Homo sapiens: one gene and its partner. The protein of the gene in region 1 purifies or fractionates together with the protein of each later gene. This does not show direct contact. Each region holds a gene or a part of one and is shown on either strand. Other genes may lie near its edges. The genes, in order: FIGLA and SEPTIN14.

Region 1 (3,823 bases):
GGTGTAAGATTTTAGAATAATGATAGCCACCATTTATTAGGCCTTTTCTATGTACGAGACACTGTGCCAAGTGATATATGTATACTTTCCACTTAAGGTTTATAACCTCTAAGCTATTTTTATGACCCTTATTTGACAGAGAAGGAAACCAAAATATAGTTAAGGCCATACAGCTCTGAAAAAGTCAGGACTGGGATTTGAACCCAGAGCTACATGAGCTTTAGAGTTGAGTCCCTGACCATCTATACTTGCCTATGGTCACTATCCAGGGCACCTAGCTCCTGACTGTTGAATCTTTGATAGGATTTCTACAGCTGGACATAGGAGGGGGCTTTCCTAAAAGCACTTTGGTTGTTTCCCTACAGTAGAATGCACATCAGACAGGACACAGGAAGGAAGAGGCATTTCTTTTCCCCAAGGAACCTCTCTTAGGAGAGACCCTCCCTAAGGCCAACTGAAGAGCTCAGCAATGGTCTGGTGATACCAGTCTCATGGGGTTTTGCAACCATTCAGCAGGAATGACACAAATGGCCCTGTAAACTGTGAAGTATCATAATGTCACCACCATTATGAGAGTGAGATAGCTCAGAAGTGTCCATTAGGCAAAGTAAAGTGTGGACTGGTTTTATGGACTTGTTCCAGGGAAAGGCAAACATTGATGGGCTGAAAATGAATCAGTCATCTGGGGAAACAAAATAGGAAGAGAGAAAAGGCCTTAGAAATGAGCCCTAAGCAACTCTGTTGGTAGGAGGAAGGAATCATCATTAGAATGTGGCAAGAAGGTAGAGGAACAAGATGGGGTCATAAAGTTGAGGAGGAGAGAACCTTAGGAAACTAAAGGTGAGGAGTGTGAGAGGTTACAGAGAGGCTGAAGAAGGCCAGGACTGGGGGAAGCACCATGTCTAGCACTTGAAAGGTGAAAGAGAATTGGGCTGGGCATCAACTTGGAGGAGATTGAGGGTGCATGATTGGTAAATATCTGGAATCCAAGCAGATTCAGAGGAAAGTGGCAAACTTCAAGTCCATTTAACCTAGAAGTCTGCCAGGCGCGGTGGCTCACGCCTATAATCCCAGCACTTTGGGAGGCTGAGGCAGGCAGATCATGAGGTCAGGAGATCGAGACCATCCTGGCTAACATGGTGAAACCCCATCTCTACTAAAAATACAAAAAAATTAGCCGGGCGTGGTGGCAGGCGCCGGTAGTCCCAGCTACTCAGGAGGCTGAGGCAGGAGGATGGCGTGAACCTGGGAGGCGGAGCTTGCAGTGAGCTGAGATGGCGCCACTGCACTCCAGCCTGGCAACAGAGCGAGACTCTGTCCCCCCCCAAAAAAAAGAAAACCTAGAAGTCCGAGAGTGGAAAGAAGAACCACCCCCCACCCCACTCCCTGCACCCCCTGCCAAAAAAAAAAAAAAAGGCAGAAAAGTTGTTAGATCAAGTGAAGGTCTTTCCTATGTAGAAATTTGATCATGTTTAGGAACAGAAGGAGAGATACTAGAGAGAAAAGAAACAATTATCCTAGAAATTTGGGGCAGAAATCTCCAGGTGTATGATAGTACCTTTGAATATTTTTTTCTTCTCCATTAGTCCTAGCCAGGTGACTGCTAGGAAGCTACATTCTGCGATGGCAGGAGTGAATTGTCCTGTTGGTCAAACTGGATGGTTGGGTTTTGGTATGGTCACAGTGTTTGGACATGTGTAGGTGGCTACCTTAGTTTTCTCTTGCATGTCAATTGTGTAACAGAAGTGCTTTGTTCATTGTAAAACATACCATCTGTTCCATGCCATAATATTTTTAATGCAGTTACCTATTGCATAACATTTTAAGATGATAGGAGAACAAAATACGGTCAATTGAACAATGCTTTTCTCTCCATAATGACTTAAGCATTGCCCTTATCATTTAAATGAAACCTCATCAGTTAAAACTTTGAAATATATTAGTTTAAGTCATCAAAATCTTTCTGTCATATTATACTGTTTGACAACTAAATATGGTTTCCAGAAACAAGACCCAGATGAGCAGAGCTATAGTAACAACAGTTCTGAATCACATACATCCTCGGCAAGACAGCTGTCAAGAAACATCACCCAACATATCAGCTGTGCTTTCGGCTTGAAGAATGAAGAGGAAGGGCCTTGGGCAGATGGTGGCAGTGGTGAGCCAGCACACGCTTGTCGCCACAGTGTGATGTCTACGACTGAAATTATCTCCCCAACCAGAAGTCTGGTAAAATATTCCTTCTTAAATACCCATACAGATATCAGAACCTTAAAATGTATACTTTGAGATATGAGTCATTTTTCCATGCTAAAACATGATTAAAACAAGATAATTTAATGAAAGCCTTTGGGTGGGGCAGTGGGGTTTACTAGTTTGGGAGATTATTTTGTTTCTAAATTAACTGGTAAGCGGCTCCAGGGAAGGGGAAACTCCTCCAGAACCACCCAATACAGACCTAAGCTTATCTTTTAAATGAAACTATTTAACCCCAGAACCACCCAATACAGACCTAAGTTTATCTTTTAAATGATCCTATTTAACCCCAGAACCACCCAATACAGACCTAAGTTTATCTTTTAAATGATCCTATTTAACCCATCAAAAGGTTTTCTGGACTCTATGGTCTCCAGAAAAAGAAGTAAGTAGCTTGCCATACATAAAGATGCATGTTTGGTGATACTTTTTTTTTTTTTTTGTGGTGGGGGGTGGTGCTGGTTGTAAGACAACATTTTAAATGAAATAACAAAGGAGTTTATTGTCTGTTATTACTTTGTCAACTAAAGAGACAGCTGGAAGTGGCAGCATGCTTCTCCAAGTCCAGAAGTGGACTTTTTGCCCTTGCTGTGAACTGGTATTCATAAATGAGGCCCCTGCTCTATCCTACTCTGCAACACAATTACTATTGAAATAAGAAAGGTGTATAGGAATGTGAAGTAAGCATGCTGTAACAAACATGTTGCATGGTATGATATAAGGGACAGTGGGGGCTGTGGAGTCACAGATGGTGGTTGGAGGGAGGCAGTTGAGGCGAGCAGTTGAGAGTAGGCTCTGGGAACAGACTACTGAGGTTTAAACCCTGGTTTTACCACTTGCTAGCTGTATAATCTTGCATGAGCTACTAAATGCCTCTAATCCTCAGTTTCTCCATCTGAGCAATGGGTATAATAATTGTACCTACCTTGTATATAAGATAACTAACTCCAAATGATATCATGTCAGCAAAGTATCTGGCATAATACCTGTCACGTCACTTGGATAGATACCAACTTCTCTTGACTCATGAGCAATCAACATTGATTAGTGAGCAATAATGAGCCACAGGTATTCTAGCTCTGTAGCCAGTGTTTTGAGTTTTCTCACTTGGCTCTCACCAATGTTGTGCTCTGATTTGAGGTCCTACAGGCTTCCTGCTGGCTGGTGGGGGCAGGGCAGGGGTGGGGAGAGAGGTGGTGGGCGGCCTTGGCTTCCATTTCTGATTAGATTAATTGTGTTCTAGGATTCATTTGTGCATATGCTCAGTGTAGATTTTCATATTCTGACCACTTGAGATATAAGATTTCGCTGGCCAGTCAACCCATAGGAGACAGAATTCCTGTTGCTACTACATGAGCTGACATGGAATGACTAAAAGCAACAACAACAAAAGAGTGGGGCCAGGCGCAGTGGCTCACAATTGTCATCCCAGCACTTTGGGAGGCCGAGGTGGGCGGATCACCTGAGGTCAGGAGTTCGAGACCAGCCTGGCCAACATGGTGAAACGCCATTGCTACTAAAAATCAGGCGTGGTGGCGGGCACCTGTAGTCCCAGTTACTCACTCAA
Region 2 (3,823 bases), on another chromosome or scaffold:
ATTTTAAATGTGTTTTTTATTCATGTATTCATTCATGAACACTTACTGATTGTCAGGGATTGATACTGAATGTTGTTGATTCATTATTATTTTTTTACTAGTGGAAAATGAAAATCACTGTGACTTCGTTAAGCTCCGAGATATGCTTCTTTGTACCAATATGGAAAATCTAAAAGAAAAAACCCACACTCAGCACTATGAATGTTATAGGTACCAAAAACTGCAGAAAATGGGCTTTACAGATGTGGGTCCAAACAACCAGCCAGTTAGGTGAGTAAAAATATTGCTAGCACAACCAAATGGATAATTTAGGAGTCCCTACAAACACAAGGTATGATAATTTGGATATGAGAATAATTATACTTCTCCCATCTTGAGCCATCATAAAGAAAACACCTGAATGTTAGGTGTTTTTATGATCTTTTGACGAAGGTAGAGATAGTAGGAACAATATAATGCGAGATCTCATTTTTATGCTGAAATATGTGTATTCAATATGTATATATGCTGAAATGTATATTGATGAAAAAACCCAGTATTTTGTTCCATTTTTTGTATTTATATGAAATGTATCTGTATTATGTGAAAGAAAGGATAGGCCGGGCGCTGTGGCTCATGCCTGTAATCCCAGCACTTTGGGAGGCTGAGGCGGGCGGATCATCTAAGGTCAGGTATTTGAGAGCAGCCTGGCCAACATGGTAAAACCCTGTGTCTACTAAAAATACAAAAAGTAGCCGGGCATGGTGGCACACGCCTGTATCCCAGCCACTTGGGAGGCTGAGGCAGGAGAATCGCTTGAACCCTGGAGGCGGAGGTTGCAGTGAGCTGAGATCACCTCACTGCACTTCCAGCGTGGCGGACTGAGCAAGACTCCATCTTAAAAAAAAAAAGAAAAAAAAAGAAAGGATAAAGAAAAAGATGGAAAAATATTAGCAAAGTTTGACAAAAGACATTAAGAAGAGTTTGATGGAGGAACCAGCTGAAAAGCAGTAGTGCAGCATCCTGGAAGTTAAATGAGAAAAGTTTGAGAGCAGGTGTTTGCTCTAACTTGAAGAATAGAGCCGGGTGCAGTGGCTCCCGCCTGTAATCCCAGCACTTTGGGAAACCGAGACAGGCAGATTACCTGAGGTCAGGAGTTTAAGATCAGCCTGGCCAACATGGTAAAGCTCCGTCCCTACTAAAAATACAAAAAAAATTAGCTGGGCGTGGTGGCGGGTGCCCGTAATCCCAGTTAACTCGGGAGGCTGAGGCAGGAGAATCGCTTGAACCTGGGCAGCAGAGATTGCAGTGAGCTGAGATCGTGCCACTGCACTCCAGTCTGGGCGACAAAGAGAGACTCTGTCTCAAAAAAAAAAGAAGAATAGGACTTGTGTTGCAAAAACATGGCACTGTAGTGTATATAATCTAGTTATATCATTCATTGTTCTTTGTAGACACCCAAAATTTAACTATCTTAAATGAATGATGATATTTTGAAAGACTTTTTGCTTTATTTTAGAGGATTTTTGAAAATCGTCTCATACATTAGAGGTTTCCCTGAATGTTATTGTCAAAAGATATGAAAATGTATGATATCCTGGAAAGTGGTGGGGATAAGAATTCACTCATATAAGTGTTGGAAAATTCTAGTATTCTTTACATATACTGTCTATATACTCTGATCTTAAGTATTGTGCCTTGGTTTTTACATCTTATGATATGGAAATTTCCATTTTGTGCTGCTAAACATGAGAGAATGTTGGTAAATTTCCTTATATAGGATGTAACATACAATATATATTTTTTACATGTTTATACTAGTGTGTTTTTATTTTTCATTTTATTTTATTTTTTTATGATGGAGTCTTACTCTGTCTCCCAGGCTGACGTGCAGTGGCACGATTTTGATTCTCTGCAAACTCCGCCTCCTGGGTTCAAGCGATCCTCCTACCTCATTTTAATATAAGACTAAGAAAACATTTCTCTTTAGTTTTCAAGAAATCTTTGAAGCCAAAAGACAAGAGTTCTATGATCAATGTCAGAGGGAAGAAGAAGAGTTGAAACAGAGATTTATGCAGCGAGTCAAGGAGAAAGAAGCAACATTTAAAGAAGCTGAAAAAGAGGTTAGTACTGACAGTTTGATATAATTTGTATTAATTTTTAGGTGCCCTATTAATTTGGGGGTTTTAATCTCAAGAGTTTACTTGATGTTTTTGGAGGATACTTGCTATTTTTCAAAAAGTAGCTTTTTACCATGTAGACTTGAATATAGCCTTTACAAAATTATAGTCTGTAGTGTTTTTTCTAGAGAACTTAATTTTCCCATTTAAATAACCCTGAAGATAATTTTATAAAAATTATGTTTTATTTATAATTTAAATTTTCATGCATAAAGTTTAATTTGTGACAAACCCAAGCTATTTACTCTGAGAAGAGTCTTGTACTGTCTAATGCTATTAATGCACTAGAAAATTGTCTTCACTTTTATAAAAAGCAAATGTTGACTAATGCTGGCCTTGATTAATGAGAAAATTTTAAGTTGGTAAATTATGTTATTCCATGCCATTTCTAATAAAATGGGGAAAAAAGCTATTAATATCGTTTTAATTATTTGCCACAAATACGTTTTTGGTGAAGACATATTTTTGAAACCATAATTTCTTTCTCTCAAGTGTAGGTGGCTTTAGTTTAAGAACATTTAGTTTAATTAGGTAAATTGGAACATAAACTTCCTTTTTCATAAGAACAGAATAGTAGTAATTAGGTGCTATAGGCCAGATGTCTCATTCAAAGACAGTTGAATTATAAGTAATAAAAATTCCAGCCGGGTGCGGTGGCTCACACCTATAATCCCAGCACTTTGGGAGATGGAGGCGGGCGGATCCCCTAAAGCCAGGAGTTCAAGACCAGCCTGGCCAACGTGGTGAAACCCCGTCTCAACTAAAAATATAAAAATTAGCTGGGCATGGTGCTGCATGCCTATAATTCCAGCTACTCGGGAGGCTGAGGTAGGAGAATCGCTTGAACCCAGTAGGTGGAGGTTGCAGTGAGCCGAGATGGTGCCACTGCCTCCAGCCTGGGCGAGAGTGAGACTCCGTCTCAAAAAAAAAAAACAAAAAAAACCAAACCATTAGCTTAGGTATAAAGGAAAAAGTTTGGATGTATACAAGGGTACGTCATGACATCTAAGGACAAGAGACATAGCTGGATCTCATGAAGACTTTTTTTTTTTTTTTTTTTTTTTTTAGACAGAGTCTTGCTCTGTTACCCAGGTTGGAGTGCAGTGGCGCGATCTGGGCTCACCGCAAGCTCCGCCTCCTGGGTTCACGCCATTCTCCTGCCCCAGCCTCCCGAGTAGCTGGGTCTACAGGCGCTCACCACCGTGCCCAACTAAATTTTTTTTTTTTTTTTTGTATTTTTAGTAGAGATGGGGTTTCACCGTGTTAGCCAGGATGATCTCGATCTCCTGACCTCGTGATCCGCCTGCCTCGGCCTCCCAAAGTGCTGGGATTACAGACATGAGCCATCGCGCCTGGCCTCATGAAGACTTAAACCAAAACTAGGAAGTGACCAGAAACCGAAGCAACCATTTAAATTTTCTCTTTCTCTCCCACCTCACTTCCCTTAGTTATGAACCTTATTCCTGTACGTCTGCTTCTTTTTTCTTTCTCTCTGGAGATTAGTTTCTTTTCCATATCTCAACTATGTGTTCTCTTAGGGTTGATTACATGTCTTGATTATTGTCAATTAATGCTGCAATAAACATGAAAGTGTAGATATCTCTTTGACATACTGATTTTATTTCCTTTGAACACATAACTATTAGTGGGGTTGCTGAACCATA

Evidence for each region.
Region 2: the proteins of FIGLA (region 1) and SEPTIN14 purify together in Homo sapiens (affinity purification with mass spectrometry; one large-scale study listed by BioGRID and IntAct). This does not show direct contact.

Annotation. Positions count from the first base shown.
Region 1 is NC_000002.12:70,783,821-70,787,643, reverse strand, and holds part of FIGLA (factor in the germline alpha), read left to right. Parts: intron 1-2,004; coding exon 2,005-2,229; intron 2,230-3,823. UniProt on the Homo sapiens protein: Germline specific transcription factor implicated in postnatal oocyte-specific gene expression.
Region 2 is NC_000007.14:55,803,537-55,807,359, reverse strand, and holds part of SEPTIN14 (septin-14), read left to right. Parts: intron 1-101; coding exon 102-270; intron 271-1,969; coding exon 1,970-2,102; intron 2,103-3,823. UniProt on the Homo sapiens protein: Filament-forming cytoskeletal GTPase. Involved in the migration of cortical neurons and the formation of neuron leading processes during embryonic development.